7 linked regions of the Homo sapiens genome follow. The protein of the gene in region 2 interacts with the protein of the main gene of each other region in a pairwise test. Each region holds a gene or a part of one and is shown on either strand. Other genes may lie near its edges.

Region 1 (5,202 bases), on a different chromosome or scaffold from region 2:
GCTCAGACATCTTTTATCTTTTTTTTCTTTTTCCAAAAAAATTTCCAAAGTTAGTAAAGGCTAAATAATGACTATTTCCTATATCCATAAGGAACTCGTGAAGGACGCATTTTATGTCATGAGACTGAGCATGAAGACGTTGTATCCTAGGGATACATCTGCCACAAATCAGAATCAGAACAGAAGGGACCACAGAATTTGGCCCAGTAGACTGTTGCCCGGCTCCTGAAATGGCCCGTGAATGCACAGATGGACTTCCTGAATTCTAAATCAAAGGTTGGGCCACATATGCATACCAAGGGCATCTTCATCTAAGCCTCTGGCTTGAATCCTCTAGGCACACATGTTGGCTAAAAGGAATCCTGCCAACTCGTGGGCTTAAAGCTTGAACTTCTTCCTTGTTGGCTTCCCTATTCCATTAACTAATTTAAAGCCTTTATTATTATTATTTTTAGCTCTCATTATAAACAATCATGAAATCTATAAAAATTAGGTCTATAATACTTTGTATTAATATACTAATATAATATAATAGCCTCCACAAGTAGATATTTGAAGAAAACAACATTCTTCTGTGGCACTACTTTTTGGCTTTTAGTTTCATTTAACAAATATTTACTGAATGGCTTATGGGTACCATGAGCCAGGCAAGTGGGACCTACACAGTGCCTGGCATCCAGGGCCATTCAGAAATGTATTTTTTCAGATTCTTAAATTACTACTTTAAAAACTCAGATGAACAAAACACAAAAATTCAGCCATAATTTTATTTTTCACTTCTTCATTATAACTAATTAAGTATAAAAATGCTCGTACAAACTGTACAAACTTTAAACAAAAAAAGGACCCCCCAAAAATGTTGTAATATAAGTATAGGGAGAAGAGTAAGCCAGAGAAGAACGATCATCAAATGAGCTCAGACTTTATCTAGTATAGAGGCTGAATCAGAATTTTGCCTGTGATGAGTTAGTCTTTCTTTTTTATAATGAACGTATAACTCCAAGTTTGCTTAAAGGTTAGTATGGTTGGTCATTCTTACAAATCAGCTCTGTCATTCTTCATCTGCCCTCACTAAAAAAGAACAAGAAAAAAGAAAAAGAAACCCAGGAAACCTGCAAATAAACTCTCTCGTGGATTTGATGCCACATGCAATCACACAGTTATTTATATCTTAACCCCTGATGTGCTTGTCCAAATCGTAGACATCTAGTAAAATCTGTTGAACTGAACGAACTAACAGCAAGGGAGAATGGACTCAATCTTACCTTACAACAGGTTTCTTTAATGAGAACAATAAATGTGTGCGTTCAGCTCTTCAAAGCACTTTGCCTTATATAGAGGAATCAAAAATAATAAGCCCCTCAAAGCCAAAACACAAAAATGGAATATCCCACCCACGTGCTGGATCTCAATATTTCCAGATTACTTCTGAGGTTGGCAGAGGCTTCGGCGGCCCTACGATGTCCAGCATTTAAAGGTGACTAGGGCATGGGCTGAGGGAGGCTCTGAGACCAGGCAGCCTCACTCACAAGCCCTCCAAAAGGCAATTTGCTTTACAGATCAACTAAAAACGGTGTTCTGAGTGTGGTGGTGGCGGGGGAAAAGACACTACTCTACTTAGTAAAATGAAGAGAATTTAGTTACAAAAAAGATATTTAAGAACCTCTATGGGCATGATCACAAATAAGCTGAGACACCCAGACTAGTTGTATAATTCAGCAAATTAAATATTGTTTTTTTCAGAGGGTGCATGGGGCTCCGCAAGACTGCATTAAGAGACAAACCCTTTAAGAAAAGACTGTCACTTGTGCCTCTTTTCCTGTTGACAGGCTGTTGTCTGAACAATGAATCCTGGAAGCACCTAGGAGAAGGCACCTAGGAGAAACGTCTTAGGGAGTAGTCCCGCGGGTCCGCCCCAGGACAGTAACGCTGTCAGTTTCCCCGCCCTTTGCACCTGTAGTGCAGACGGTACCAAATGCGATGGCTTTGAGACGTCCTCTAGACATCGGAGCCCATCATTTACCACAAAGAACACTGAAGTACTTACTTTAGCAGAACATTTTCCGAAGAAAAATTAACAGGGAGAGGAAATGAAGGACACTAACAAACAGACCCCATCTCTAGAGTCTGAGATCAAACCCAAGTCCGATGGAGCCCGGGCATCTGGTGGAGGAAAGCGGGCAGGCATAGCCCCAATCCTGGTCCTCAACAAGATATTTCTGTGAATGAATCCCTCTGCTCCCTGGAGGAGGGCACATTACATATCCCTTTCCTAAATCAGAACTGAAGCAATTTGCCCATCATTCGCACACCTCGACAGGGAAAGGCAGGATTCCAGTGTCTCATCAGACCCGGGAAGAGGGGAAGGGTCGCTGGCGCAGTTACCTACTGGGTTTCCGGGAGCTAGGGAAAACGCCCCTGGGAAACGCAAGTGTTCAGCGCCACATAAAACTTCCCCGGATTTAGGGCCACCCTAAGACGGGCGAAAAGACTCTCCAGCGCCTTAGCAGGTGCAAAGCCAGCTGTCAGTGTGCGCATGGCGAGTCCCCGTTCCCGAGAAGGGACGCAAATGACCCTAGAAAATCAGACAGGAGCAAAACAAACCCAAGAATGACCCTCCACACACCACAAAGGCAAAAGCAAACAGAAGGCACCTAGACACACTCTGCAAAGTGTAGAACTGTCTACACTTGCATGGAGGAATCCACCTTGCAGAGCGAGGGTAGACCTTCCCGGTTCCCAGTGTCTGGGACCGAGGCAGGTCAACACGGGGCCAAGGACATTGCACTCAGGGCCCCTCGCGGCTCCTCCTGCAGCCCGTGGAGTCACCCCAAGACTCGGAGAGCCGGGCTGCGATTGCTTCTCGGGACAGTAAGGACACCTCAAAAGGGATAGATTTGGGGGTGTTTCTCAGAAAGGAGCCACATCTCCGGGAGCCCAGATCTCGGGGGAGAGTCTGGGAGGCGGCTCGCCTCCAGGACCCGAGGCCGCCCCAGGCAAGGAGTGGGGCGCTCTCCGCGTAGGGCAAGTTCACCCCCAGAGCTCGGGACCCTGCAAGTTTCCCTCACTGACCTGCAGGTCAGGACACGCGACTTCCCCGGCAGGTCTCCTGCGCTAGCGGTGGGGCGGTGCTCCGGTCTGGACGATACGCGCCCGCGAAGCCGTCCTCGGGAATGTTGGGCGCAGCGGCGCGGCGCGCAGTCTGGGCGCACGGCGGACAGCAGGCGCAGCGGGAGTGGATCCGGGCTGCCGGCCCCGCACAGCCCGCGCGTCGTCCCTCCGCCCCTCCTGGCCGCACAACCAATGGCCGCGAGCGGGTCCCACTCCTCACCGCCCCCTAGTCTCGGCTCTAGCGGGCGCTTGGCTCTAGGACGGCGCCCAGCTCGGGCGAGGGAGGAGCTTGCGCCACCATTGGAAAATCTCGGAGGACGAGGAGGCGTTGCGCAGGGAGCCCATCTGGGGAAGGCAGGTGTAGTGGGTGAACTTTTTTGTGTGTCGGGGGGAGGAGGGGGGAGTGGGGAGGAGGGCAGTTTTTTTAGGGCTCAGGGGCCTTTCTCTGCAGATGAAAGCATCCACTTCTTGCCAACTTTCTCCTCCTCTTACATCTTTTATGAGTTCCTCGCAGCCCCCACCCAAAACAACTACTCTGGGTGCATCATCGCAAGCCCAGCTCTGACTGAGTTGCGTGGGGCATGGCCTCATCCTGTGATGAGCTTAACCACAGACAGCCCTTGCTCAGCCTTCGCCGCGTGCGCCTCTGAATCCTATACCAAATCATTAAATGAGTCGAATAGGATTGGAGTTTCTGTCATTGCCAGGGAGACAGTCAGTCATGAGTCCCTACTAGGGAACTGGCGTAGAGAGTCATATATCGTAACAGAACTCCGGAAAAGGAGGCTTTAACTGATCCGACCAACTTCAGTTACCAGTCAGTGCTGCTACCTTGACCAGAAGACTCTCTCTCTGTATTCCTGTTTTTCAGCTGGAAAATGAGAGACTTCGATCACTTGGTGGCTGCGGTCTGTTTCACTCTGACATTCAACAATATTGTTGCTCTGTGGCCTGTAAAGGGCTGAACTCCTGGGAAGTGTTGGTGTGGCTACCTGTTCCTTGAGCCCCTACTCCATCTGGTTCTGCTGTCTTCACCGTGAGACCTATTAGTGGCCAGAAAAGCAAATCATGCACAATACAGAATCAGGCCACCCAAGTCTCAGTGACCACCAACACATGCACGTATACTGCCACCCACCAGGGCCCGGCTCCTAGGAGCCTGCTACTTCCACCCATGTTCAATTGTTCTCCACGTAGAGATAGGCAGGGGCACCTGGCTTAACTCTGAAGCTCCGTGGTACATAAGTAAAGGCTCTCTGTCTCTCCCCTTCCTTCTCTAGGGCAATTGTGGGTGGGTGTGAATCTCTCTTATGTGGATCCTTCTGTGCCTGATGTAAAATGCAGGAGGATGGAATGAGCTGTGTTGTCAAGAGGGCAGATTCAGAGAACCACTTCCCTCCGGGCACACTTGGATTGGCTTCCTGAATTTCACCTGTTCATGTGCCATTCTCATGAGTTACCTTACATCCATCTACAGTCTGCTCCATTATGCACTTAGTAAATTTTACCTTAGATTTTTACTTGGCTTCATCGTAAGCAATAATATCTATGAAATTATTGGTTTGTGAGATACCAGTTGTATTTAATATTTTAATGCACAATGAAATGAAGGCATAAGTCTTCCATGCTAAAATCATTCTGAATATCACTGGTTGTTCTCACAACTCACTTTTTGAAACACTAAGGTGTATGGGGGGGCAGTTAGAACTGTTGACCTTCAAAACAGTGGTCCTCAAAATTTCTTTGTGCATAAGATTCCTAGGCCCCAACCCTATTGTCTGGTTCATTCATACTCTACATGTTTGTTTGTTTGTTTTGTCTCTCCCCTTCCTTCTCCAGGGCAATTGTGGGTGGGTGTGAATCTTTTCTATGTGGATCCTTCTGTGCCTGATGTGATCCTTCTGTGAGGAGTCTTGCTCTGTCGCCCAGGCTGGAGTGCAGTGGTATGATCTCGGCTCACTGTAATCTCCACCTCCCTGGTTCAAGCAATTATCCTGCTTCAGCCTCCCAAGTAGTTGGGATTACAGGTGCCCACCATCACGCCCAGCTAATTTTTGTATTTTTAGTAGAAACGGGGTTTCTCAATATTGG
Region 2 (4,860 bases):
GGGGAAGTCAAATTATCTCTGTTCACTGATGATATGATTCTATACCTAGAAAACCCTACAGATTCCTCCAAAATACTCCTAGACCTGATAAATGACTGGCAGTTTCAGGATGCAAAATCAGTGTATAAAAATCAGTAGCATTACTATATACCAACAATTGTCAAGCTGTGAGCCAAATAAAGAACAGAATCCCAATTACAATAGCCACACACAAAAATAAAATACCTAGGAATACATCTAACCAAGGAAGTGAAAGTGAAAGATCTCTACAAGGAGAACTAAAAAACACAAATAAATGAAAAACATTCCATGTTCATGGATTAGAAGAATCAATATCATTAAAATGTCCATACTGCTCAAAGCAATCTACAGATTCCACCCAATTCCTACCAAATTATCAATGTCATTTTTCATAAAATGGAATCATTCTACCAAAAAGACACCTGCATGTGTATGTTTGTCACAGCACTATTCACAATGGCAAAGTGATGGAATCAACTTAGGTGCCCATCAATGGTGGACTAGATAAAGAAAAAATGGTACATACACATCACGAAATACTATGCAGCTATAAAAAAGAATGAAATCATGTCCTTTGCTGCAACATAAATGCAGCTGGAGGCCTAAGTGAATGATCCTAAGTGAATTAACACAGAAACAGAAAATCAAATGCTGTATGTTCTCACTTTTAAGTGGGAGGTAAACAATGGGTACACGCAAACATTAAAGATGGAAACCATAGACAGTGGGGACTCCAAAGTGGGGGAGGGAGGGCGGAGGACAAGGGTGGGAAAACTGCCTATTGGGTACTATGTTCACAATTTTGGTAATGGGTTCAATAGAAGCCCAAACCTCAGTATTATGCAATATACCCATGTAACAAACCTGCACATGTGCTCCCGAATCTAAAATAAATATTTTCAAAAAGCAATTGACCTATATTATTAACATTTTAATCTACCTGTATATATGTTTTAATCTGCATGTGTTCATGCTTTGAAATATGGTACAGGTACTATGACAATCCCTGTTCTGTAGGGGAGGAAGAAGAGACACATCTCTTCCCCCACATCACAAAGTCAGGAAGGAACAGACCTCACGGAGTCCAGTCTGTCACTGGCTCATGCTTTGTGCCCTTAAAAGGCAAACTGGATAAGTGCCATTCTAGAGAATCAGACAAAATTCAAGTGGAAGAGAGGGGAGGGGAAGAAGACGTCAGCTGGGGCCTGTTTGGAGCATCCCAGCTGAGGCTGCGCAAGGAGGGAGGCACGCAGTTGTGGAATTTGTTCCCCTTTTTGCATACTGACCAGCCCTGGCAACGGAGCTCAAGGCATCTTTGTGCCACTGCTCAACAGTGAGTGATGTCATGGGCACGGCCAGGTCTTTATCAGTTCTGCCGGATAAATAGCCAACTGCACTAGGTCTGGAGAGACAGCAAGGTGCTGTGCGGCAGAGCATTTGGGGTCTCAAAGAAGCAGGTGAGCCTGGGCCCGAGGGGCTGGGTGGAGGAGCACCTTGGTGCTTCTCTGCTGGGGAAGGGACAGGGGACAGGGCATGCTCAGGAAGACAGGCAGGCTGACCCCGCCTGGAAGGCACCCAGAGACAAGAGGGGTGGGCGTAGTGACCTCGTGCCCTTTTAGGGGAGATGCTGCTGGCCAGAGGCCGTTAGGGCCCCCACTACCAACTCCATGTTACTCTCTCTCACCAGTGGCCACCACCATGGATACAGGCCCCGACCAGTCCTACTTCTCCGGCAATCACTGGTTCGTCTTCTCGGTGTACCTTCTCACTTTCCTGGTGGGGCTCCCCCTCAACCTGCTGGCCCTGGTGGTCTTCGTGGGCAAGCTGCGGTGCCGCCCGGTGGCCGTGGACGTGCTCCTGCTCAACCTGACCGCCTCGGACCTGCTCCTGCTGCTGTTCCTGCCTTTCCGCATGGTGGAGGCAGCCAATGGCATGCACTGGCCCCTGCCCTTCATCCTCTGCCCACTCTCTGGATTCATCTTCTTCACCACCATCTATCTCACCGCCCTCTTCCTGGCAGCTGTGAGCATTGAACGCTTCCTGAGTGTGGCCCACCCACTGTGGTACAAGACCCGGCCGAGGCTGGGGCAGGCAGGTCTGGTGAGTGTGGCCTGCTGGCTGTTGGCCTCTGCTCACTGCAGCGTGGTCTACGTCATAGAATTCTCAGGGGACATCTCCCACAGCCAGGGCACCAATGGGACCTGCTACCTGGAGTTCTGGAAGGACCAGCTAGCCATCCTCCTGCCCGTGCGGCTGGAGATGGCTGTGGTCCTCTTTGTGGTCCCGCTGATCATCACCAGCTACTGCTACAGCCGCCTGGTGTGGATCCTCGGCAGAGGGGGCAGCCACCGCCGGCAGAGGAGGGTGGCGGGGCTGGTGGCGGCCACGCTGCTCAACTTCCTTGTCTGCTTTGGGCCCTACAACGTGTCCCATGTCGTGGGCTATATCTGCGGTGAAAGCCCGGTGTGGAGGATCTACGTGACGCTTCTCAGCACCCTGAACTCCTGTGTCGACCCCTTTGTCTACTACTTCTCCTCCTCCGGGTTCCAAGCCGACTTTCATGAGCTGCTGAGGAGGTTGTGTGGGCTCTGGGGCCAGTGGCAGCAGGAGAGCAGCATGGAGCTGAAGGAGCAGAAGGGAGGGGAGGAGCAGAGAGCGGACCGACCAGCTGAAAGAAAGACCAGTGAACACTCACAGGGCTGTGGAACTGGTGGCCAGGTGGCCTGTGCTGAAAACTAGGTCCTCCGGGGGAGGAGGGTGTAGCTGGCGTGTCATCCTCAGGGCGCTTCCTCGCTCACGCCAGGAGGGACTTGGAGTGGCGAGCTGGGGCCCGATGGGGCTTGGGGGCAGAGTAGACATCTAGCCTCCCTAAGGGTATGCGCGCTAAAGCCCAGCTCTCGATCTCACCTCCATCCCCATCCACCCACACACTATGGATTGGGCTCTGGGAAGGGGTCAGGGTGAGAGGCTGCTCTGGAGAACAATGAGGTCCTCATAGCAGCAGGCAGCTCCTGTGTTTTCTTGAGGGTGGCAGAGGAGCTAAGAGCAGTGCCCAGGTCTGAGGGGGCTGCCCAGTGAGTGGCAGGGGCAGGAGAGGGGAGAACCCCATCCTCAGAGCTGCTCCCAGCCAGCGAGTCAGGAGCGGGGGAGACAGGGCTCCAGGGATGAGGCCGCATTCTGCTCCCACAGTGCCTTTTCCAGAAAGTTCCCATTGCTCAATAAATGTGGATCATCAGAGACATTTATGAACAATGACAGAAGAAAAATTACCCAAATAAATGTGGAAGCAAGCAAAAGAGAACAGTGTTTCCTTCTTCTCCTGTTTTGTTCTGGTGGTGTGCTTGGGCCGGGTGGGACTGGTGGATGGAAGGAGAAAACACCAGACTCTGGAGGAAAAGGGCCAAACACCAGGATGCCTGGATGCTGGGAGAGGATCTGGCTTGCAGGGATGAAAATAACAGCTGCCCTGTCTAAAGGACTTGGCCTGACACATCATCTCCTTCTATCTCTCAATAGCCCTGTGAGAGGTACCAGCATTATCCCCAGTTTCAGATGAAGGAGTGGCCCAGAGAGGTGACATCTCCTACCCGAGATCCCATAGCTGGTGGGCGATTGAAGTGGGACCAGAAGCTGGTGTCAGTTGACTCTGACACCCATGCCCCTAAGCCACTCTGCTGTTCTCCATCTGTGTGTCACCTGTGGTCACCTGGCCCAGTCAGATGAGGCTGTCTGAGCAGGACAAATGCAAACAGGCTGTGATAAGGAACAGAAGTAAATGCAAAGCACAGTGAGTATCTGTGTGAGTGCATCCTCTCCCCAGTAAAGAAGACTTCTTGAAAAGTATAGATTACGATACTTGGAGTCAATGATTGGGCAGGTGACTCACAGTGGGCACCCGATGCTCCTCGATCTTAGCTAATGCAGGATCTCTTCAACTTTTTACATCCTTGTCCCCTTCAGAAGCCTCTTTGGATATACATCTTTCCTACACAGCACATTCCTCTGCCTGCTTATGCAATTTCAGTGCAACCAACACACTGTCGGTTTATGTGTTGTGGCCCTTTACAAAGACAGAAACTGGCTGGGCGCAGTGGCTCATGCCTATAATCCCAGCACTTTGGGATGCCGAGGCAAGAGAATCACTTGAGGTCAGGAGTTTGAGACCAGCCTGGCCAACATGGTGAAACTTTGTCTCTACTAAAAGTACAAATATTAGCCGCATATGGCAGCATGCACCTGTAAACCCAGCTTCTTGGGAGGCTGAGGCAGGACAATCACTTGAGGCCAGGAGGCAGAGGTTGCAGTGAGCCGAGATTACACCACTGCACTCCAGCCTGGGTGACAGAGTGAGACTCTGTCTCAAAAAACAGAAGGAAGGAAGGAAGGAAGGAAGGAAGGAAGGAAGGAAGGAAGGAAGGAAGGAAGGAAGGAAGGAAAAGAAAGAAGGAAGGAAAGAGAGAAAGAAAGAAAGAGAGAAAGAAGGAAAGAAAGAGAGAGAGAGAAAGAAAGAAAGAAGGAAGGAAAGAAAGAAAGAGAGAAAGAAAGAGAGAAAGAAGGAAAGAGAGAGAGAGAGAAAGAAAGAAGGAAGGAAAGAAAGAAAGAAGGAAAGAGAGAGAAAGAAAGAAAGAGAGAAAGAAGGAAAGAAAGAGAGAGAAAGAAAGAAAGAAAGAAAAGAAGGAAAAGAAAGCCACAAACCATTGTGAGATTTTTTGTTGTTGTTGTTCCCCAAGAACTAGTTTTCACCTATTTGGGATCAACATTGCTGCTGCTGAGAATGTCTGAGCTGCAGAAATGGTCCCATCTAATATACTGATAGAGCCTGTCTCACAGAACTGTAGC
Region 3 (4,928 bases), on a different chromosome or scaffold from region 2:
ACTGACTGCGGCAGGCAGCTTCCCACCCAGTGGCAGAGTAGCTGACTTCAGATCATATCTGCTCTCTGTTCTTCCCCTTTAAACTGACTTGACTTCTTTTTAAAGCTTTGTAAACAACAAAGCTCCCAGTTATAGCCCCATTCCTAGCAGCTACCTGGTTCTATCTGTTTCTGCTTTAAGAAGACCATTCTAAGGCTGAGCTTTGAGAAACATCCACTGCTGTTGGGGTGTCTTGGGCTGTCTCTTACCTTCTCTGTCAGAGCTTAGCCTGGCCTGTTTCCTGACCACAAGAGAAAAATCATGGGCAGCCTGCCCAGCTTTGTAGTCTACTTTCAGTGGTAACTTATACAGCAAAAGCAAGATTCATCTGCAAATCTTGTAACATGAACCTATCACAGCGCAATACTCTTCTACGATAATGCACCAACCACCCAGTGCATTTAGCATGTAACAGACCGCTGTCAAGAGCACCTCCCCCTGTTTGCTCTGACATAAAAGAATGTGTAGAAAATGTGATATTCACAAGGAGGAAAACAGAAGATCTAAATCTCAGGAAGAATCAAAAGGAAATGCAACAAGGAGTCATAAAAAAAAAAACAGAAAGAAAGAAATGTGAACATGTAGAACTACATGGAAAAAGCCTGTGTAAAGAATGGATAGGAGCCACGTTGTTTTTCCACATCAAAATCACTCCTAACACCACACTGCAACTATCAAGTCAGTTGATTCCAGACCACAACTCTGTTACACTCACACACACAGTCGTGTCTCTGTCTCTGTCTCCCTCTCTCTCTCTCACACACACACCCACAATTATTCTTCCTGCAAAGCTTCTCAGACTGTGCATAAAAACTAGTTTCAAATCAAAACAACTTAAGTGGATATAACCAATTACTTTGTTCCCCTGAGCCTCATTTCTTGTTTTATTTTGAAAGCTTGATCCTCCTTCCACTCTAACTTCCACAGGCCAAATTCCAGTGGTCTTCACTTGGGATCTTACCTGAGACCAAACTGAATTTATCCTCAAAAGGTAACCCCCGGATATGTCCTTGGACAGCAGAAACAGACCACGTGGGCCAAAGGAAACAAGTCTGTTTCATGATCTGATCTTGGATTCACCCCACTATTTAAAGAGACCCCACAGAAGAAGGGAAGAAAAGGGCCCCCAAAAGACCAGTTAAACAAGAGACAAATAACCAGTCAAGATATTCCTTGATAAGATCCTTAAAAAGTATCTTTAATTGATGCCAAATATGAACAGATCGTAAAGTGACAGAAGCAAGTAAAATTGCATAGATGAAAACTATGCGCATCAATTAGGTTCTCAATTCATAACATTCAATGTCCTTGACCTGACATATTACACAGTTAGAGAAGGGAGAATGCGCAGTAGGTGAAGATGAGACACGTCCTTAACTCAAGGTGGAAGCAACTGGCAAACTCAAGAAATAAAATAGCGTTTTTTCAGCTTAAATGGTTTGTTGTCCTGATGGTGCACTTTAAATTAATACTACTCAATTTTTATTTTTAACCTCAGTAATACTTTATCTTTACTATTAGAGGCATGTCACATGGAGTCCATGTTGTCTACTTACATCTGCTGCATAAACAGTCCCAAAACAGTGCGCTGAAGAGAAGAAAGGTGCTTCTGCAAGGTTTGGAGAGGAGACAACTTTGACCTGGAATATTTTACAAGAGATTTCTTGTTTTGTTTTGTTTTCTTTCCATACACCATTTCTTCTTCTTTGATTGTGGTACAAAAGTTTTCTATACTCTTTGAAGTTTCACGTCATAAAGAGTAAACTCCTAGTTAGCTCCTAAATGAAAATCACTGTGACTAGGGTTAATCTCCTTAAAGCGAAAAGCCCTGAGGTCAGCAGGGCCTCACCCCTTACATACATGCTGGACTTCCCAAGAAAGCCCAGGGTCATTTTGCCTGAGCAAAGAGGCTGGCATTTAATCCCAAGGCTTCTAAACTTTATATCTGTACCCTGAATTAGTTTGCACAGTGACCCAAGGTAATGGAACAGTTTTGGTTAACAATTCAGCTCCTGTTTGCTTCTTTACAAAAATGGTAAGTAACATACATTCTTTAAAGGTTTACCTGAGTCATACTAGACATGTTCACATATACCCTGAAATTCCATGATATAAATACAGGTAGTAATATGCCACATGGTGAATGAGAGTTCACCTCCTGAGATCACAATTCAACTTGGGTTGTGTCTGGTCTTAAAATTTTAGTTTGTTTGTCTTCTTAAAATGAACATAAACATCAAAAGACTTCATTCTTGCTTGGAAAAGCCTGAAGATAACATGCTTGTTTGGCAGTTTATATTCTTTCTAACAATTTTATACTATGGATGGTTACCACCCACCAATTCTCACCACCCCAGGAATAAGTCATTCCTGGAAGAAAATGGGAAAGTGCCTTCTGCTAATGTTCTTTCTCCTTTCTTTCAATCCAATCTACCAAACTAAGAATTAAAATGTAAAATTGTTAAAAAGCATGTGTTTTGAGGTCTCCTATATTAAATGAGAGGGCTAGGAAACTATTTTTATTGACTTTTAGATGGTACCTAATTTGAAAAACGTGTAACTATACACAATGTGAAGAAGGCCTTTTATAGGCTAAACCAAATTTCTACTTTAAAAAAATGTATTCCTCATTTACCATTTACATGTATTTTTTTAATTCTCAAGCAAATCAAGATTGTGACACCACCTGTGCTTCACGTCCACCATAGTGGAATCTAAACCTGCCCTACAATTCATTTCAGGGAAATGACTGCCCACTGGCCAGAATCCTGGAGAAGGACTTGCTATTGGTTTATCTGATTCTGCAAGGCTCACCCACGAACACACTCCCAATGAGCTGATATAACTGAAAATCAGAACTCAAGTCTCCAGGGAGTGCAAGGGGAGTTGGGCACAAATGGGAAAAGGGAGATGCAAAAACAGAAAGTTTTCCTGGCTAGAATTTGTCTTCTAGAAATCTGAGGACAGAGGAAATGAATGTCTTTGGTCTCTCTGATTCAGATCACTTCAGGTGAGTTAACCACTTCAGAGATTCTGGGATGGCTAACAGCCCTGGTGTGACCAACTCTTCTATTGCCACCCTATTGAACTAGGGCCCCAATAGACTGGAAGAGAGGAATTATAGCTATCAGCACATCAGAAGTCTTCTCCTTCTGGAGAAAACACATAGTCAGGACATGAGCTGTTACAGCTCCATGCCTAGGAAGGGGAAGAAAAGGTAAAAAGGCTGCTAAAATAAATATGAATAAGTAAACCAAAAAATAGTCATCCCTTAATAGGCAGTTTTGTTAAGTGCACCTTCAGGTCTACAAAGACATTTCAACACATTACAGTGCGAGGGTAAGAGCTTGGTCAAACATTGCATGCCTATGCTACACAGATAATCCCTGTACTCCATTCTTACTGAATTCATTGCAATGAGCTACAGATGAGCTAAGCAGCATTCACTTTCCTCACACCACCCCAAACTCATAACAACAACTCACCCCCAGTCCCAGACTGACAGGTTCACCGCATGCAGCACTTTTTTCTATATCACATGCAGAAGAATCAACCAGTCCAGAGTGTAACCACGGTAAATATACCAAATACCCAAAGTCAGTCTTGGTGCCGTTTTCTCATCCATTAACCCATCCATCCCACAGTACTGAGTGGATTATTGCTGTTGACAGAGTGCGGTGTTTCAAGTTCTGTGTGCACTAGACCTCAACGTTGAAATGAAAGATCAAGATAACCCCAAGCCTGGGAGGAGGTTGGCATTTTTTTCCTAATTGGGGATTTTTAAGCAAGTAGGAAAGGAATCGCCAGAATGAGTTAAGGTTCAGACGAGAAGGAGACATCACATGGGAGGGTTTAATGCCCTGTAGTCGGATGCTGCGCAGTTCTTGGCCCCTCATCTTCCACGATGTGTGTTGTGTTCATCTCACAGATTCACAAAAGTCACATAGGAAAATAAGATATCCATGTTCTTTCTTTTAATCGAGTTAGCCAGAATGGGTGTAACTCGAGTTTCTAGGGTGATTGCCTCACTGCTAGTTCTAGGACAGGATGGGGGAAAGGGGTGGGAGAAGCAGGACAGATTTTCAGAAGAAGCTGGGCCAGAATGTCAGGTAACAGGCAGCCACATGCTAAGTGCAGAATGAAGATTCCCCACCTCAGGGTCCTTTGAAAGGCTGTGAGTACCTCTCCACCGGTGGGCAGCTGCCGAGCTCCAGAGGCCTGTGTTCCGTGGCTCTCTTTCAGCCAGGAACAGGGTCCCCACCATTCTCTGGGCTGGGTAACGGGGGGGCAGCAGAAGTTAGATGTTCAACCTGTGAAGTGACTGCCAGGTGGGAAGATCATAGGGGCATCAGGAAATATCTGAAAGGGGTAGACCAGGAGGGAAGGCCTAGGAAAGGTTATTATGAACTGAGTGTTCCCACATCCACAACAATGCCTGAAAAGACTGGACCGTCAGAGAGATTTGCAAAGTGCTGTTACCGACAGAGAAAAAAATAAGGAAAGGTGCCAGGAGCACTACACTGGACCTGAGGAAGCCTTGTGTGTCCAAAGTGGCCCTCGATAGGAAACAAATTCCCAAAAAGTTTATCTTGGCTTTGGTGGAGAGAGGAAAAAACAAGTTCACAGTTCATGTCCAGTTCAAAGATGGGTCTCAGTTCACATCCAGCGTCAGGCTGTCAAAGGGACCAATGCTAGTAGATGGCCAGAGAGACAGCACCCTCCTGGGTCTCTCCTCTCCAGGGTTTAGGGTGGTGTGGTCTTCTCACAGTGGTGAAATGAGAGAGCGAGAATGGAAAAAGAAAAAGCAAAAGGTCTGTGCCCCAACCCTTCCCCACTTTTGCTACCTAACTTCTCAGCTGTGTTAAGGAGGCACTTTCTACAGTTCACTG
Region 4 (4,538 bases), on a different chromosome or scaffold from region 2:
TTATAGGTGTGTGTAGGAAAAAGAATGTTAGAAATGTACCAATTTTGAAGGCGTAGACTATGAAATTACAAATGCTTCAAAATTTTCTTCCCAATACTTACGTGGCATTTTATAAATTTCCACCAATAAACGTGTATTATTTTTATTGAAAAAGCATATTTTTAACATGCCCTTCTAGATGCCCTCCTAGCCAGACTGAATCACCTCCCATTTGATTTTTCTTAATTTTCTACCTTTAGGTTCTGGCTCATTCATTAACATCAATTTCCATTCATAAGTCCTCACAAACCCACTTTTCCTCTTGCCTGAGTGCCTCACATACCCTACTGCCTGAGATGGTTCCAGAGGCGGTCTCCTCTCTCCCTTAGAAACACCAGGCACACACCTGCCCCCAGTCTCGCCTGCACTCTCCTTTCCTCCCGCAGAGAGGCATTCCTTTCTCCTCCTCTCATCCTACACACACTATAAGAGACAACTGAAATCTTGCCTCCTCCAGCCAGCTTCTTAATTCATTTGTTCTCAAAGCCCTGGTTTGAGCTCACACAGCATCTAGAGTGTTTTACAAAATATAAAATATTATTATCCCTGCCCTGAATTTTTTGTTTTGGTATGTGTGTTATTTTCCCCTCCAATAAGATTGTGCCTTGGAGAGGGCTGAGAACATAGTATCATAGATAAATGAATAAAATAACATAAAATAAAATAAAAATACATATACCCTTTGAACTAACTATTCCACTTCTATGTAAGCACAATTATATGCCAGTAACACTCATTTTAACGCTACTTTAGTGGCAAAAAATTGTAAACACCTCAGATGCCTATTAAAAGAGGAATGGTTTAAAGATACTATTATAGCCACACTATGAAATATAATACAGTAGTTAAGAAGAACGAGCTTGATTTGTATGTACTGACAAGAAGAATCTATAAGGTATGTAAACAGTTGAAAAAAAAGCTACAGAGTTTTACATTTGTCAAGATCTAACACTAAACAAAATTAGAAACATGTGAAATCCATATACACACGTAGAAAAATACATATAATGAGCCGTGGATGGAAACTCGCAAATGTGATATTAAAGACTAGCACTATAAGACTGAGTGAGATTTGGAGAGTATAGGAAAGGAGGCTTTTAGTTAATATAGAGAGATATTCAAAAATTTATGAGTGTGATCTCATGTATTAGTTATTCGGTTAAAGAAACAAAATTAAATGAAAAATACATTTTTAAAAAGGTTGCAATTCTGAATTATGGGAGAGAAATAAAAATTAGCAAAACATATTTGCAAAGTGGCTCAGGAGGAAGGAGCTGAAACCCTAAGAATGGGTGAGTTTTTTTTTTTTTTCAGAGACAATACAGAAAAGAAGAGGCAAAGGGGCCGAGATGGGATACAGACCTGTATCACACAGGTGTGTGCACATTCTCATTTAGAACTGGAACAAGGGAGTCAGATTTAAAATTCTGGTGCAGATTCCAAAGGTGTTCTCTGAGGAAAAGTTCTTTTGTTTGGAGATGCCATGTGTTACAGCACAGAAATTGATCAACCTGGCTTAGAGCGTCACATTCTTCCTCTGTTGGAGCAAGAGGTACAGAAGGAATTGGAATTTAGTGGAATTGAAGATCTTTTTGAACAGCATCTGCAGAATGTAGTTCATTCTCACCTGGCTGGGTAGGGAAGGTTGGAAGGGGATGGTCAATAATCATTCCTGGTCACTGTGAGTCTGGCATCACCTTGTAGACCACATGGGTGTCTCTTCCTGTCCACATCACTGTAACCCCAGTGTGGGCACTTCTGCTGGCGAGAAGGCCCAGGTTCTCTACACACCACTGAGTCAGTTCCATCTCCCCAGCGGGGCACCTTGACCAAAGCCATCAGCTGAACCACCTTCTTCCTGTCCCTAGGAAAAAACCCTGATCCATGGGCTAAGAATCTGAATGAAAAAGACTATGAGTTGCTGTGCCTTGATGGTACCAGGAAACCTGTGGAGGAGTATGCGAACTGCCACCTGGCCAGAGCCCCGAATCACGCTGTGGTCACACGGAAAGATAAGGAAGCTTGCGTCCACAAGATATTACGTCAACAGCAGGTATGGACCAGCCAGGTCCTCCCACCTTTTCTTCCTAGATGGCCATAGGCTATTCGGGGGGAGTTTACAACAAAGTGCAGCCATGACTCCAGCACTTTCTTTTTGAAAACTAGAATTCCATGCATTGTGCATTTCATGCCATGCATTGTGGACTAGAGTATCAGGGTTCAAATCACAGCTCCACAGCTTCCTAGTTGTGCCATCTTGGGTATGTTACATAACCTCTCTATGCCTCAGCTTCCTCATATATAAAATTGTAATAATAATATTTTTACCTACTTCTCAGTTAACATGAGTATTAAGTGAAGACATGCACCCAAACGGCATAGGAAAATTCCATTTCCTATAGGACGTGCTCAAAATATGTTAGCTGTGTAATTATGGAACTAGACCTCTCAGGCCCAGCTCTGCTTCTAGCTCCTGGTCACTGGTGATTAGATCTGATCCATGTACTCTTGGGACTAGGAATCTGCCTTTCTGCTCCCCCTAACCTTGTTCAGGGGTACCCTCATTTCCCCTACTCCTGTCCTTCCCGAAAATGAAGAAGACAGCTCCTGTTTCCCAGCGCTTGTTGATACGAGTCATGAAGAGTGGATTTCTGTTCCTCTTGCCTAGGCAGACTGAGCACTGTTCTCAACAGTCTGAAAAACACAGGACCCTTGCCCTCGGAGAGCCTGCCCTCTGGGGGAACAACCACTCAGGGCCAGCCTTGTTGAAGACAGGGGCTGCCTGAGTATTCTAATCCTAAAGGCCCCTCCACACACACACATCACCTTCCTTTTGGGCATAGCTGCCTGCTGTTGATTCACCATTACCTTTTTTTAAAAAAAATAAGAGTATATTTGAAGTCCTTTTAAGGTACATGACAATAATAAGCATTTAACATACATTTCCTAGCTGCTATATGGAAAGTTCAACATTTTGCAGTCATCATTTCACTTACAACCTTTGGAGATCTGGAGAAGCTGAGTGGCTTGCCCAAGAAAGGATTCAAAATGCAGTCAAACATGAACTTTTAAGAACTACCTCTGCCACTCCTCTGGGAGGGTTCACATTTAACATCTTCTTTGACAATAACATCTGAAGGGACATGTTATTGTCCTCTCATTTCCTATAAGCAGCCCCCAGTGAAGGGCAATGAAGTGGGGAAGAGAGGTCAGAGTAGGCAGGCATGGGTGTGGGTGGGAGGGACTTATCAGAGGAAGGTGGGACCAGGGACCCTATAGATGATTTTGGGGGCATCATGAAAGCATGCAGCTGGGGCCCTAAGTGGATAAATGGCAGATAAAGGAGGTGGAAAATTCCCAAGACATACTCCGTAGCTTCCCTTTTTCCCCAGGGCTGGTTCAGAGCTTTCAGACTCTTCTCATCCATGTGTTCCCAGCTGCTAAAGACCACAAGGTCCTCACGGACTTTCTGTTCACTTGACAGCACCTATTTGGAAGCAACGTAACTGACTGCTCGGGCAACTTTTGTTTGTTCCGGTCGGAAACCAAGGACCTTCTGTTCAGAGATGACACAGTATGTTTGGCCAAACTTCATGACAGAAACACATATGAAAAATACTTAGGAGAAGAATATGTCAAGGCTGTTGGTAACCTGAGAAAATGCTCCACCTCATGTGAGTAGGAGGAACAGCATGGGGAAGTGGCAACCAAACATGGTGGTGAGTGCTGGGATGGTGGGTGGGTACAGGAGGGGTAGGCTGTGGCCCTTGGGATAGGACAACATGGACAAAATGAAATGGTGAGTGAACAATCTAAGCCCGGCATGTATGACAGGCTAGACTGTAGGGGCAGATAGTAAGGGGATACAGGCTCAGAGCACTAAGGTAGTGAACTTATTGGGTATAGAGAATTCCATCTTATTTCTAAGAAAAGGACTGGGTTTATGTGTACATGCCATTGCTCTGCAGTAAACTTTTGATTAGAGTTGCCTTGTCCAATATGGTAGCCACCAGCAAGATGTGACTATTTAAATTTAAGTTAATTAAAATTAAACTAAATAAAAGATGTATTTCTTCAATCCCACCTAGCTGCATTTCAAGTGCTCAACAGCCACATGTGGCTCCATATTGGTCAGCAAAGAGAATGTTTGCATCATCACAGAAAGCTCTTTCAGACAGTGCTGCTCTAGACAGCTTCAACAATGATAGGTTCTGGTAACCATAAAGTTGCTATGCATACTACTCATTTGGAACACCAGTTTCTGAGAACTGAAATAGAATAAAACACATCTTTGCAGTATAACTATGTTGGGTGTAACTGAGTCACCTGAAAAAGTTTGGAAGCTGGGGAATAACATGTGGTGTAGGGCAGTTAGTCTTTCCACAGGAGTATGCAGATAAGGGAGTCTTGATCCTTATTAAAATGCTGATTCTCAGAGCCTTGAGATACTGATTTAGAAAGTCTGTGCTAGGTCAGGTATCCGCATTTGAAAAGCTGCC
Region 5 (4,538 bases), on a different chromosome or scaffold from region 2:
ACTAGTATTTTCATTTACCTTTGGTTCCTTTAAAAAGAAAGTCATGAAATGACCATTCAAAAACAAGCTTGACTTCTGGGCTATGAAGAAGCAGCATAAAATTCTACAAGTTTCTGTTTATAAAGGAATGTGCTTACTCTTCCTTAATATAAAAATCTATCTAGAGTAGATTAAATTTTAGCATATCACAGATGGAAACACACCCATGTACATTCTTTTGAAGGGGTGGGAAAACAATTGCCTTCTCCATATGGCTGTCTTCTCTACCTCCCCAGAGATGAAGGCGCGTGGATCAGTGAGTTTGGGAGGAAGAACTGAGTACCCGTAGCCAGCCCCTTCCCCTCTTCAGTGCTTTTCTGCCTGCAGAGCACATGCACCTTCTCAGGTCTTCCATATTTTAGGTTTTACAGGATAGGCCTGGGTTGTTCAGCACTGGGGGAGTTGATATGCTCAACTCTGACAGTTAAGTATTAGCAAGCCAGACGGGTGCGGTGGCTCATGCCTGTAATCCCAGCACTTTGGGAGGCCGAGGCGGACGGATCACGAGGTCAGGAGGTCGAGACCATTCTGGCTAACACGGTGAAACCTCGTCTCCACTAAAAACACAAAAAATATCAGCTGGGCGTGGTGGCGGGCACCTGTAGTCCCAGCTACTCGGGAGGCTGAGGCAGGAGAATGGCGTGAACCCGGGAGGCAGAGCTTGCAGTGAGGTGAGATCACGCCACTGCACTCCAGGCTGGGCGACAGAGCAAGACTCCATCTCAAAAAAAAAAAAAAAAGAAAAAAAAAAGTATTAGCAAGCCAACAGCTGCTGCAGATCCAAGCCACGTTCTCCAATATCACTTTTATTAGTTAACAAGAACAAACAATAAAGTGAGATTTTAATCTCTATCTTCTAGGCTCTTATGTCTTTCACCTCTTTTCATGTCATTAACAAAAACTTTGCTTGAGAAAAATGTAACACATGTTCAATATAAAATCATTAATGGAAGAATATATTCACTTACCAGATGTGCTCTGGCAAATACAATAGGGAGTCCAAAAGCTGACACGACAATGCCCGTTGTAAGAAAGATGGCAAGTTCCTTACAAGCGTTACTCATAGCATCTGTATCATCCACTAATCTTCTTGCTATGCAGTATGGAATAGGTGAAAGGATGTAAAAAAATAGAACAAAGAGGGGCCAGTATTTGCTAGAAAAAGAAAAATAAGTTAATGTAATTTTTGCTATGTCATTTTCCTACACACAAAATATGGTCTTTTTAAAAAATCAAGATTCAATCGCTTGACTTCTAATGGATGATACCCAACCTTAGCATAAAGCTGAAACAACCCTAAACTTCCCTTACAACACGAGGAACTCCCAAATTACAGAAATCAAAATACAGAAAAGAAGCTAAAAGTAAGAACACTTTCAGTCAGAATATAGAATTTATCACAATAAAAATAGATGGCTTTTACTCTACATCTAGTTAACTGTATTGTACCACAGTCATTTCCTGGTTTTGATAACTATGGTTATGTAAGATCTTATGACTCTGGCAGGCTGTGTGGAGGGTACAGGGGACCTCTGTGTATGATTTTCACAACTTCTTCAGAATCTAAAATTGTTTCAAAATAAAAAGTTAAAAAGAAATAGATGCCCTTAAAACTACCATAGAATAAAATAGGTATCATGGTGGAGATCTGATTGTACAGAGGCTAATGATAAGCAGCTACTTATGTTTCCTAAATTTTTTTTTTTTTTTTTTGAGACAGAGTCTCGCTCTGCTGCCCAGGCTGGAGTGCAGTGGCATGATCTCGGCTCACTGCAACTTCTGCCTCCTGGGTTCAAGTGACTCTCCTGCCTCAGCCCCCGTGACTAGCTGGGATTACAGGCGTGCACCACCATGCCCGGCTAATTTTTGTATTTTTAGTGGAGATGGAGTTTCACCATGTTGGCTAAGCTGGTCTTAAACTCCTGACCTCAGGTGATCCACCCACCTTGGCCTCCCAAAGTGCTAGGATTACAGGCATGAGCCACTGCGCCTGACCATTTCCTAAATATTTTAAGAAAAAAAATTAAAAATTGAATATATGCTTAAGAAAAATAATTCAAACAGTACAAAAGCACAAAAAGTAAAGACTAAAAGTTCCAAATCTCCTCTTGCCCACTTTCCTATTGAGCTTCTCAGGGACCCTTCCACATTTCCACATAAACTTTAAAATATGAATGGGTCCCTGCAGTTTTCTAACAATATGTCTTGAACATATTTACATGTTAGCACTTACAGCTCTTCCTCATTCTTTTTAAGACTGCCTAGTATTTCCATTAAAAGATTTACTATAATTTAACCATTTTTCTTTTGAAGGACATTTAGGATGTTTTCAGAATTTTTTTTGGCTCTTATAAATAACGCATAAAACAACAAAACAAAAACAAAAACCAAAAAATAAACAAGGCTGCTTGAACATCCATACTCTCCCCCACTAAATATATCTTTGTAAACATCTGCAAGTGGGTTTGTATCAGAAAGTCTAACAAGTGAAAGGGCTAACTCAAAGAATATATACTTTGAGAGCTACAAGCAAACTTATCTCCAAGAAAACTATCTATGTGTACTCCCCCCACAGCACAAAAGAGTCCCTGCTTGCCCTGTCTCTTGTCTTTGTCAATAGATTTTGTTTAGTTTTGAGTGAGGCTGGGGATATTTTTATGTGCTTATTAGCAATTTGTAGTTCTCTTTTTGTATTTATTTTTCTATTGAGTTGTCCATCTTTTTCTAATTTATCTAAATGTTAAAATGTTAACTTTGAGAAGTTCTTTCTATCCTAAGGAAAGAAATTTTTTTTTTTTTTTTGGAAACAGAGTCTTGCTCTATCACCCAGGCTGGAGTGCAGTGGCGTGATCTTGGCTCACCGCAACCTCCATCTCCTGGGTTCAGGCGATTCTCCTGCCTCAGCCTCCCGAGTACCTGGGACTACAGGCATGTGTCACCACGCCTGGCTATTTTTTTGTATTTTTAGTAGAGATGGGGTTTCACCATGTTAGCCAGGCTGGTCTTGAACTCCTGACCTCAGGCAATCCTCCCGCCTTGGTCTCCCAAAATGCTGGGATTACAGGTGTGAGCCACCGCACCCGGCCGGAAAGTAATTGTTTACATCTCTCTCTTTTTTTTTAATTGTGTTTTGACTGCTTATGGTATTTTTTTGCAAAAAGACATTTTAAATTTTCTTGTAATTAGTATTATCAATAGATGTTAAAAACTGAGCAGGAGGGCTGAGGTACTGTGTAGCTATCTTGCCACTGCAGACTCAGCAGTAGTGAAAGAGCAGGTAACAGCCAAAAATATTATTTGCATCTTGGTGTCCTAAAATCTTTAGAAACAAACTTTAAGTGGTGATTTTTACAAAGGTATGTGTTTGGTAAGTGAACATTTCTCTGCATTACTTTTACAGTAGTAAAAAAACATTTTTTTAAGCTTTAAAAGTAGAAAAATTTTACCCTTAAATATTCAGAAAGACAAACATTTTACATACTTGTATATTGGAAGGGCACATCCAAGCATCAAAAACATCAGTCCGATTGCTCCTCCAAAGGACAAACTAATCAAAGCTGCAAAGCAAATAAAAAGTGCAACAGGAATATAAATTAAATATTATTTTTATTAATATCAGCAGTCTGAACATTATCTGTAACCTCAGAAGCAAAAATCCCTAAAACGTATTAATAGCAAGTTGCCATCAGAAGTGTAAGTTATCTAGTCTTAGAATAAGTCTTCTGTGGTATCTTCAAGGCAAAATGAAGTGACACTGGCCTTTTTTTTTTTTTTTTTTTTTTTTGTGAGATGGAGTTTCACTCTTGTTGCCCAGGCTGGAGTCCAATGGCTTGATCTCGGCTCACCACAACCTCCACCTCCCAGGTTCAAGTGATTCTCCTGCCTCAGCCTCCTGAGTAAGCTGGGATTACAGGAATGCACTACCACATCCTGTTAATTTTCTATTTTCAGTAGAGATGGAGTTTCTCCATGTTGGTCAGGCTGGTCTCGAACTCCCGACCTCAGGTGATCCACCTGCCTTGGCCTCCCAAAGTGCTGGGATTACAGGCGTGAGCCACCACATCCAGCCAGTGACACCGATTTTTAAAGCTCTAACCTACTGCTAGTACCCCACCATATTCCCCAGACGCTGGTTCCCTTTCTAAAGAGTCAAAGTCCACAGGCTCAATGCTCTTCTGGGCATTAGAATTATATTTACTTCACAGATCACTACAGTTTTGAAAAGCAGTATGTGGAGAAACTCCACATGCTCAAGTTTACTGGACTTTAGAAACCTCATCCTATAGGAAAACCTCTTCTAATCAGCTCCTGTTTCTGGCACATACACTCTCAATGTGCATAAAACTGACCAGAAAAAATGCCCGAGAATATCTGTAGTTAATGATTTTAATCAATTAATTTTGTTGCAAATCTTTAAATAGTTTGCAAAAGTAGAGCTGGGTTTCCTTCCCTAATCTACATTAGAAAATCTGTAGGACAATGGGTTATAATCCTTCTGA
Region 6 (3,741 bases), on a different chromosome or scaffold from region 2:
ACTGCTGAGTAGGCTGGGGTCAATAGAGGATAATTGTAACTTTGCTTTGATTTTGCCACCACATGATTCTATCATATTCATTTATGACTTGGTACTTTTTAGCTCAGAACACACAACCAAGTTTTCCATAAAAGGAAGCTCACTAAAGGATTGAAGACTTAACCTAGGAAAATTTCAGATTTGAACCCCTCCATCAGTGTTTTATGTTATACACCAAGAATTTAAAACAAATCAGATTTCTTAAATGAACTCAAGCTAAATGAATCTGAAGTAACTATTTCTGTGTATTGGATCTTTGACTATTCTCTTGTTGATGTGAAATTAAAGGTAAATTTTCTGGGTTTTAACAGGTGCTAGTAATTCCTACTGGTCAATGTTGACAAGACTTTAAATGTAAAGCTACATTTTGAATAATAAGAGGAAACATGTATCTTGCTCATGATTTCTGTGCTCCAAAAGTGATTTGTATAAAGAAAGAAAAGGAAATACCCTACATATCCAATAATAGAGGAATGGTAAATTTATATTGATTCATAAAATCCTAAGTTGAAATTAAGTGATGCTTATGAAATTATGTATCAATAAGGAAAAATCTATGATATACTGTTACATGTAAAAAGTAAATATTATGCAGTGATTGTAAGTGAGTAATCTATTACTATGAAGTAGGATAATCAACTATCCTGTTTGCCTGGGACTATCTTGGTTTTAACATTGAAAATCGTGTATCCCAGGAAATCCCTCAGACTCAGACAAACTGGGATGGTTTATCACCTTATTTTAAACAAAGATTATAAGAAAACCAGAAGAAAATGAAAATAAGTTACGTCAGCCTCCTAGTCAATGAGTGCACTTGGGTTTTTAAAGTTTATTTCCTTTGTGGATACAACATTATTTTTACAAAAATGCAAATTGGGAGGAAAAACTAAGGCTAGAGAATATATCTTCTACTTCTTGGCAAAGCATGTTTACTATTGGTCAATGTTATTATTTGACTCTATATTGCCAAAGGGATAATCGGGGAGAAGGTCATAGGAATTTTCATCCTTCTTTAATAGCAGACATTAAAGATGTCTCCTATTATAAGGAGTTATGTGAGGTCAGCTAAAACTAATTATTTGAGGTCATACAAATGACTCAAAATTCTTAGAGAAACCATGGGTTTGGAGAGGAATCCTCATATATATTTCAGAAGAGGAGAAAAAATAAGATAGAAATAAGATCTTGTATTTTTTTAAAGATTTCTGACTTTCATTTTTTTCTCAGGCCTGCTCCTACTATGTCCTTTTCCTTCTCTCATATATTTCAGTCGTCTGGAGTTCTCAGAATAAGGAATCCATTATCAATGACCTATCCCATGAACATTTTTTTTGAGAACCTGTGTAAGACTATATAGACATGAATATTTGATGACCTGACACCTCACCGTTCAAACCTAGATTTGGGTTGTATAAATATCAACTCAAGGCTGTAAGAGCCTCCCATGGTCTAATGTTTCAAGAGTAAAGAAGAATAGACAAACACCCATGTTGGAATCATCTGTTGCAGAAAAGAACACAAAGATAGTTTTATTAATTTAGAACAAATTTTGAGAACTTTACATAGACAGAAATCTTCTATCTCCTTTTTTTCTAATTTTGGGGAATGTCTTCCACTAGTGGTCGCTAAAAATGTAGAAATATCATAGGGAGTGCAAATTACATTGTCTCTTTACCTGCCACAATCTGGCAGCACTCATCATGTAGCAAATGCCCAAATAATAGACTACAGATTATAGTGACTTCACCCTAGGTTAACATTATTTCTAGGTAAGGTACTAGTATATCTGAATTGAAAAGTAGGGCAGCTGTTGACTCAGATTCGGCATTTTAATTACATTGTTTCCAAGTATGATATTCTGAGAGTGTCTATAGCACTTAGTGTCTGCTTCATATAAACTACCAGTTATTATATATTTATGATGCAAGTAGTTTTCCAAATGTGGTGAAAGTCTGAGTCTTTTTATCCCCATGGGTAAAATCTGAATCTGGCTCTCTGTGTCTCTCAGTGCTTGTTTATTGCTGGTCAGAGAGTAAATTCTTGATAAAAGCTGTTGACTTGGCTCTCACAGTTTATGCAGACATTGGAGAGACAATTTGGTTATTTCAAACATCACAGGATTTGAGTAAGAAGACCTGGTTATGAAACAAGGCTCTCATAATTACTAGTTATGACTGTTGACAAGTTACCTTTTCTTGTTTACAAGTTATTTGGCCTCTTTGAATTACTTGTAAAATAGAGATAGGGATTCTTTCTTGATCATGGAACATCAAATGAAGTTATTTGATGAAATACTTTGTCATCTGGAAATTATAAATATAACTAAATGTTAATTATTATTTGAAATTTGGGCACCTCATGGTGGCATTTTCTATGGTCATTTTTTTCTTTTCTCGCATAATGGCTAAAAGTAGGTAGACATGCAAACAATAGCCTAGAGTGGGAGTTAGGAAAAGTTAAGGCAGAGACATGTCCATGTATAAGCTATGCTGTTTTTACAAAAAACAGATGGGTGTTGGCTATTTAGAGCTTCCCTCATGGGGTGTGGTAACTCTAAGAATGTGCCACAATGTCAGCCCTGTAGAAAGATAAATGGAATGGGTTCTGTATTGTCCCTAGTTGTTATTTTTTTTTATCATCCTTAAAACAATGATGCAAAAGGGACTCCACCAAAAACGTAGATGTGGAATAAAAAAAAGATAGTTTAGGAATGTCATGAAGCAGTCATATATCTTTTCCATCAGGTGCAGTCTCCCTGGTTGTTGATGGAGAAAATGACAAAAAAAAATACTATACTAAAAAGCCTATCCAAGGAACAGGTTAGTAGGAAATCACATTCTGAAGCACTCATTCTGCCTTTCTTCAGTGTAAGAAAGTTGCTCAAAAGAAGAAGCGTGACAACACAAGCTGCTACAATGGCTACATTCTCTACATTCAATGTAAGAGAGAAGGAGCTATGGTCACTCCATGCAAAGGCCAGATAGAGATGTGGTGCGTATGTGCAGAGTACCTCAAGAAATGAAAGTCAGCATGTCTCTTGGAAGCTATGAACACTAATGTTTAAAAAAGGAAACAGAAAACAGAAGAAATCACTTAAGGAGAGCTGTCATTTTCTATTGGTGAGGATTCCTGATCTTGGGGAGGTTCTGGAAAGTTCGTCTCTGTTTCTTCTTCTTCCTCTTCTTGGATTGGAATAATTTCAATGTCTTCTTCATTCTTTGGTTGGGAAGATGTTTCAGTTAGCCCAACCACTTCTTCTTTTATTTCAATAGTCTGTTCTTTTTTTTCTTCTGCTGACAGGAGAACTATGTTCTAAAACAGAAAATTAAACAAACCATTCTTTACTTTTACCACTGACACCTTTGTCAACAATCTCCACAAACATTTATCAAATACCTCCTGGTTTTTATGCTACTTATGTCATTTATTATATGCCTTTAAATGCCAAAATTTTTTTGCAGGTGCTTATATCCTTATCAAGTCATTTATTAAAACTCAAGTCTGAATAAATCTTCAAGGGCAGCAGACATTGACCACAGTGCCTGGAATGACCACGTGGTATTGGGAAAAGAACATTGCAGTAATAGAGGAGTTTAGATTTTCGTTCTGATTTGCCTTTAGTGAATATAACTCTGGGAGAATAATTTTCTCTCTTTGATACTATTTTTCTTTAAATGCAAAATGAAGTAATTAGCGATGATT
Region 7 (3,408 bases), on a different chromosome or scaffold from region 2:
GGGGCTACAGGTGTGTGCCACCACACGAGGCTAATTTTTGTATTTTGTGTAGAGACAGGGTCTTGCTATGCTCCCCCAGGCTGGTCTCGAACTTCTGGACTTGTGATCCTCCTACCTCAGCCTCCCAAAGTGTTGAGATTACAGGTGTGGAGCCATCACACTGGCCCAGTCCCAGAGCTTAGTACCTCCAACTGGTTGTTTTTTTTTTTTTTTTTGAGATGGAGTCTCGTTCTCCCTCCCAGGCTGGAGTGCAGTGGCATGATCTCCACTCACTGCAACCTCTGCCTTCTGGGTTCCAGCGGTTCTCCTGCCTCAGCCTCCCAAGTAGCTGGGATTACAGGCACGTGCCACTGCGCCCAGCTAATTTTTGCATTTTTATTAGAGACGGGGTTTCATCATGTTGGCCAGGCCAATCTTCTGACTTCAGGTGATCCACCCACCTCAACCTCCCAAAGTGCTGGGATTACAGGCGTGAGCCACTGTGCCCGGCCATACAGGTGGTTTCACTCAGAGTTCAGCCATTGTCATCTGTGAGGGGGACACGTGGTTGGCTTTGTTGTGTGCTAACTTTGATGGTGACCAGGGGGTTCACTGAGCTCTGTAAGGTGCTGAAACTCCACTGATGTTTGTGATGAAAGACAAACAGCAAACATATTTGCTCTAAAACAAAAACGGAATTCCCTTGACCATCGTGCTTCGATGATCTCAGACTATTCTGAAGTTAAATTATATAAAGGAATTCTGATGTCATGCCATCCACATTCTCCAAATGTAAGACTGAGAGATGACTGCTTCCAAGGTAGCATCAACAAAGATTTTTACAAATGAAAACGTTAGATTTAACACCCGAATTAAGCGTGGAAAGGTGAAACATCAAGGCGGCAGGCAGCCTTTCTAAAAAGTTTGCTGTAGGAAAGATAATGTCAAAATAGGGACCAGTCCTGGTTTCATTAAGAAGCTATCATGACGTCTGATTTTAAACCATATGTAAATACAGTAATCTGAAGGATTTGGCAAAGATTTATTTTTTTTTCCATTTCCAGTTTTTTAAAGTAGACACAGATTTGCTTAGAATAAAGCTGATTTTAAAAGCACACAAAAGTTGAACACAAAGGAGAGGATTAAATTCACCAATGCAGAGTGATAAAGAGGAAAAGATACTGAGTAGGTGCCTTCAGCAGAAAACTGATCATCCAGGGTGATCACCTAATAATCGGAGACTTAATTCCTTATAATGCAAAAGCAAGAAGAGTTTAGTGTACGAACTGTACAGCTGAGTTTGTAGCTCTATCTTGGTTTCTGTTGATTATGAACAATTAGCATAGTTATATATAATCTTTCTTTAGTAGACAACCTGCATCCATTTAAATTAAATAATACTTTCTACAATAGTGTGATATATAAGGCCACAATATTTATTTTGGACAAACCCCTTAAAGTAGCGATTTTATTATCAATGTTATTCATTCTTTTGAAATATAAAGTACTTCAGCTGAATTAAGGTTGCAGATAATTTTTAAAATACAACACACATCATGACTAGTATATTAAAATTATTTATATTCAGATATTTATATCTAATATCAAATGAAAATTTACTACCAAATTTTCACAGTAGACATTAATCAGTCTGACATGCTTATTGATCCCATAGGTGTAATTATAGATCAACATGATTTTAGTGTCTATTCTTTTATTTTACTAAATTAGGAACGCAGCATTTACAGAACAAATAAACACAAGTGACGTGGCCACCCCAGGATCTAACAGCTCTTCAGTGAGCTATGTTGCAAGCTCAGAAGTAATCCACTAACGAACCAAGTCAGACTCCAGTTCTTCATCAAAAGGTGCTGGTGGAGGTTGTCAGACGCCTTCCAATATAGATCCTTCACAGAAAAATTATCAGTAGTTAATGTATCTTGTGATTCACAGGAGACTGTGTTACAGCTGAAACAGGGTAGCTCACTGTGGTTAGAGCTTATGCAAGGGGACTGGTGATTTTATACCCATTATAAAAATTTTGTAATGAATCTATCTGTGATCTTTTATCTAGTGTTTTATCAATATGTATTTTGTATTAATTAACTTAGAAAACATCAGATCGTATTCTTACATAGAAGGATCACCAAACCGAATGCTGTTTCCACACAGAAAGCTTCTGCTTTGTTCCAACTCAGTGCTGGGGGAAGTCACCTACCAGGGCAAGATGGTGTTGCTAGTTCATCACCACCAGCCTCACCAAAGCCAACTGCTTAAAAATGAAGCCCCTGCCCTCATGTGGTTTAAGTTTGGTAGTGGGAGAGATGTCCCAAACTAAAGATGCAGGAGTGTCAGAAAAGGCTTTTCGGCAATAGAGAGGCTCGCTCCAGCTGACCAGCGGGCATCACTCCCGGAGGGAGGAGGATGGGTCTCCAGGAAAGGGCAGAATCGGAAGCCTGGCTGGCCTGGCCTGTGGGCGGTGGTGTGGTGGGCACTGTGAGCGCAGACAGTGCTGCAGCAGCTTTCGGGGCAGATTTTATCGTGTGGTTCTGAAAAGCAGCTGAGGGGGTGTGGGTCGCCAGTGGCAGCATCAGGCTCTGAAAACCCGGGCAGGACGAAGGACAGTAGCTGGGAAGTAGTGGCTGCAGAAATCCATCCTGAAACGAAGGGCTTAAACCTTGTATTTAAAATGAGGATCCCGAGGCCTTGCCCCCAGAGTCTGCTTGACAGTTCTGGAAAAGGCTCCAGAAAGCAAACTGCCTGGTGATGCTGATGCAGTCTGTAGGTCTGACTCCCAAAAGCACCAGCAGAAATGAAGGTGACGGGTTATGGGGGGGACGTGAGAATGTGCCCAAGAGCTAGGAGAAAGCCACGCACACGGGAGGGCGAGGTGGAGACACGGGCAGCGCTCAGGTCCCGGCCCAGGAAACTCAGTGGCTTTTATCCCGTTTCCTTCAACCCCAGATGTGAGCCCTCTGGCCAACCTACCTAACCCACCTGCCCCCAGTGGCATTCCGGTCTTTCCAGTCTGTCCAACACACGGCAGCCACAGAACACTGTCTGCACGCCAGGACTAGAGCCCTCCTCCCCGCTGAGAGGCTGGGACCAGCCCGAGGAGGAGCCGTTTTGGCTTCCCGCTCTGGCTCTTCACCACCGCTGCGGCGAACGCTCTTCAGAACCCACAGCGGCGCCTGCCTGGTCTCTGTGTTTTCTGCAGGGTGAGTGAGTATAAGCAGCCAGGAAAGGCCAGGCGCGGTGGCTCACGCCTGTAATCCCAGCACTTTGGAGGCCGAGGTGAGCCATCCCTTGAGTTCGAGATCAGCCTGGGCAACGTGGCGAAGCCCCGTCTCTATTAAAAATACAAAAATTAGCCAGGCCTGGTGGTGGGCACCTGTAATCCCAGCTACCCAGGAGGCTGAGGCAGGAGAG

Evidence for each region.
Region 1: the proteins of GPR42 (region 2) and SERTM1 interact in binary tests that used the Homo sapiens proteins (3 or more experiments, as listed by UniProt).
Region 3: the proteins of GPR42 (region 2) and KCNA1 interact in binary tests that used the Homo sapiens proteins (3 or more experiments, as listed by UniProt).
Region 4: the proteins of GPR42 (region 2) and TF interact in binary tests that used the Homo sapiens proteins (3 or more experiments, as listed by UniProt).
Region 5: the proteins of GPR42 (region 2) and LEPROTL1 interact in binary tests that used the Homo sapiens proteins (3 or more experiments, as listed by UniProt).
Region 6: the proteins of GPR42 (region 2) and MS4A1 interact in binary tests that used the Homo sapiens proteins (3 or more experiments, as listed by UniProt).
Region 7: the proteins of GPR42 (region 2) and BNIP3 interact in binary tests that used the Homo sapiens proteins (3 or more experiments, as listed by UniProt).

What each region holds. Positions count from the first base shown.
Region 1 is NC_000013.11:36,672,055-36,677,256, reverse strand, and holds the start of SERTM1 (serine-rich and transmembrane domain-containing protein 1), read right to left. Parts: upstream 3,238-5,202; 5' UTR 3,073-3,237; intron 1,913-3,072; exon of another isoform or gene 1,830-1,912; intron 1-1,829.
Region 2 is NC_000019.10:35,369,641-35,374,500, forward strand, and holds GPR42 (G-protein coupled receptor 42), read left to right. Parts: upstream 1-1,427; 5' UTR 1,428-1,478; intron 1,479-1,708; 5' UTR 1,709-1,719; coding exon 1,720-2,760; 3' UTR 2,761-3,322; downstream 3,323-4,860. UniProt on the Homo sapiens protein: G protein-coupled receptor that is activated by short chain fatty acids (SCFAs), such as propionate. Hence may play a role in the regulation of whole-body energy homeostasis and/or in intestinal immunity.
Region 3 is NC_000012.12:4,914,537-4,919,464, reverse strand, and holds the end of KCNA1 (potassium voltage-gated channel subfamily A member 1), read right to left. Parts: 3' UTR 1,209-4,928; downstream 1-1,208. UniProt on the Homo sapiens protein: Voltage-gated potassium channel that mediates transmembrane potassium transport in excitable membranes, primarily in the brain and the central nervous system, but also in the kidney.
Region 4 is NC_000003.12:133,773,526-133,778,063, forward strand, and holds part of TF (serotransferrin isoform 1 precursor), read left to right. Parts: intron 1-1,907; coding exon 1,908-2,092; intron 2,093-3,523; coding exon 3,524-3,713; intron 3,714-4,538. UniProt on the Homo sapiens protein: Transferrins are iron binding transport proteins which can bind two Fe(3+) ions in association with the binding of an anion, usually bicarbonate.
Region 5 is NC_000008.11:30,100,956-30,105,493, reverse strand, and holds part of LEPROTL1 (leptin receptor overlapping transcript-like 1), read right to left. Parts: intron 3,597-4,538; coding exon 3,521-3,596; intron 1,195-3,520; coding exon 1,008-1,194; intron 1-1,007. UniProt on the Homo sapiens protein: Negatively regulates growth hormone (GH) receptor cell surface expression in liver. May play a role in liver resistance to GH during periods of reduced nutrient availability.
Region 6 is NC_000011.10:60,467,860-60,471,600, reverse strand, and holds the end of MS4A1 (B-lymphocyte antigen CD20), read right to left. Parts: intron 3,352-3,741; coding exon 3,133-3,351; 3' UTR 849-3,132; downstream 1-848. UniProt on the Homo sapiens protein: B-lymphocyte-specific membrane protein that plays a role in the regulation of cellular calcium influx necessary for the development, differentiation, and activation of B-lymphocytes.
Region 7 is NC_000010.11:131,966,684-131,970,091, forward strand, and holds the end of BNIP3 (BCL2/adenovirus E1B 19 kDa protein-interacting protein 3), read right to left. Parts: exon of another isoform or gene 2,972-3,408; coding exon of another isoform or gene 2,944-2,971; intron 1,887-2,943; coding exon 1,841-1,886; 3' UTR 1,001-1,840; downstream 1-1,000. UniProt on the Homo sapiens protein: Apoptosis-inducing protein that can overcome BCL2 suppression. May play a role in repartitioning calcium between the two major intracellular calcium stores in association with BCL2.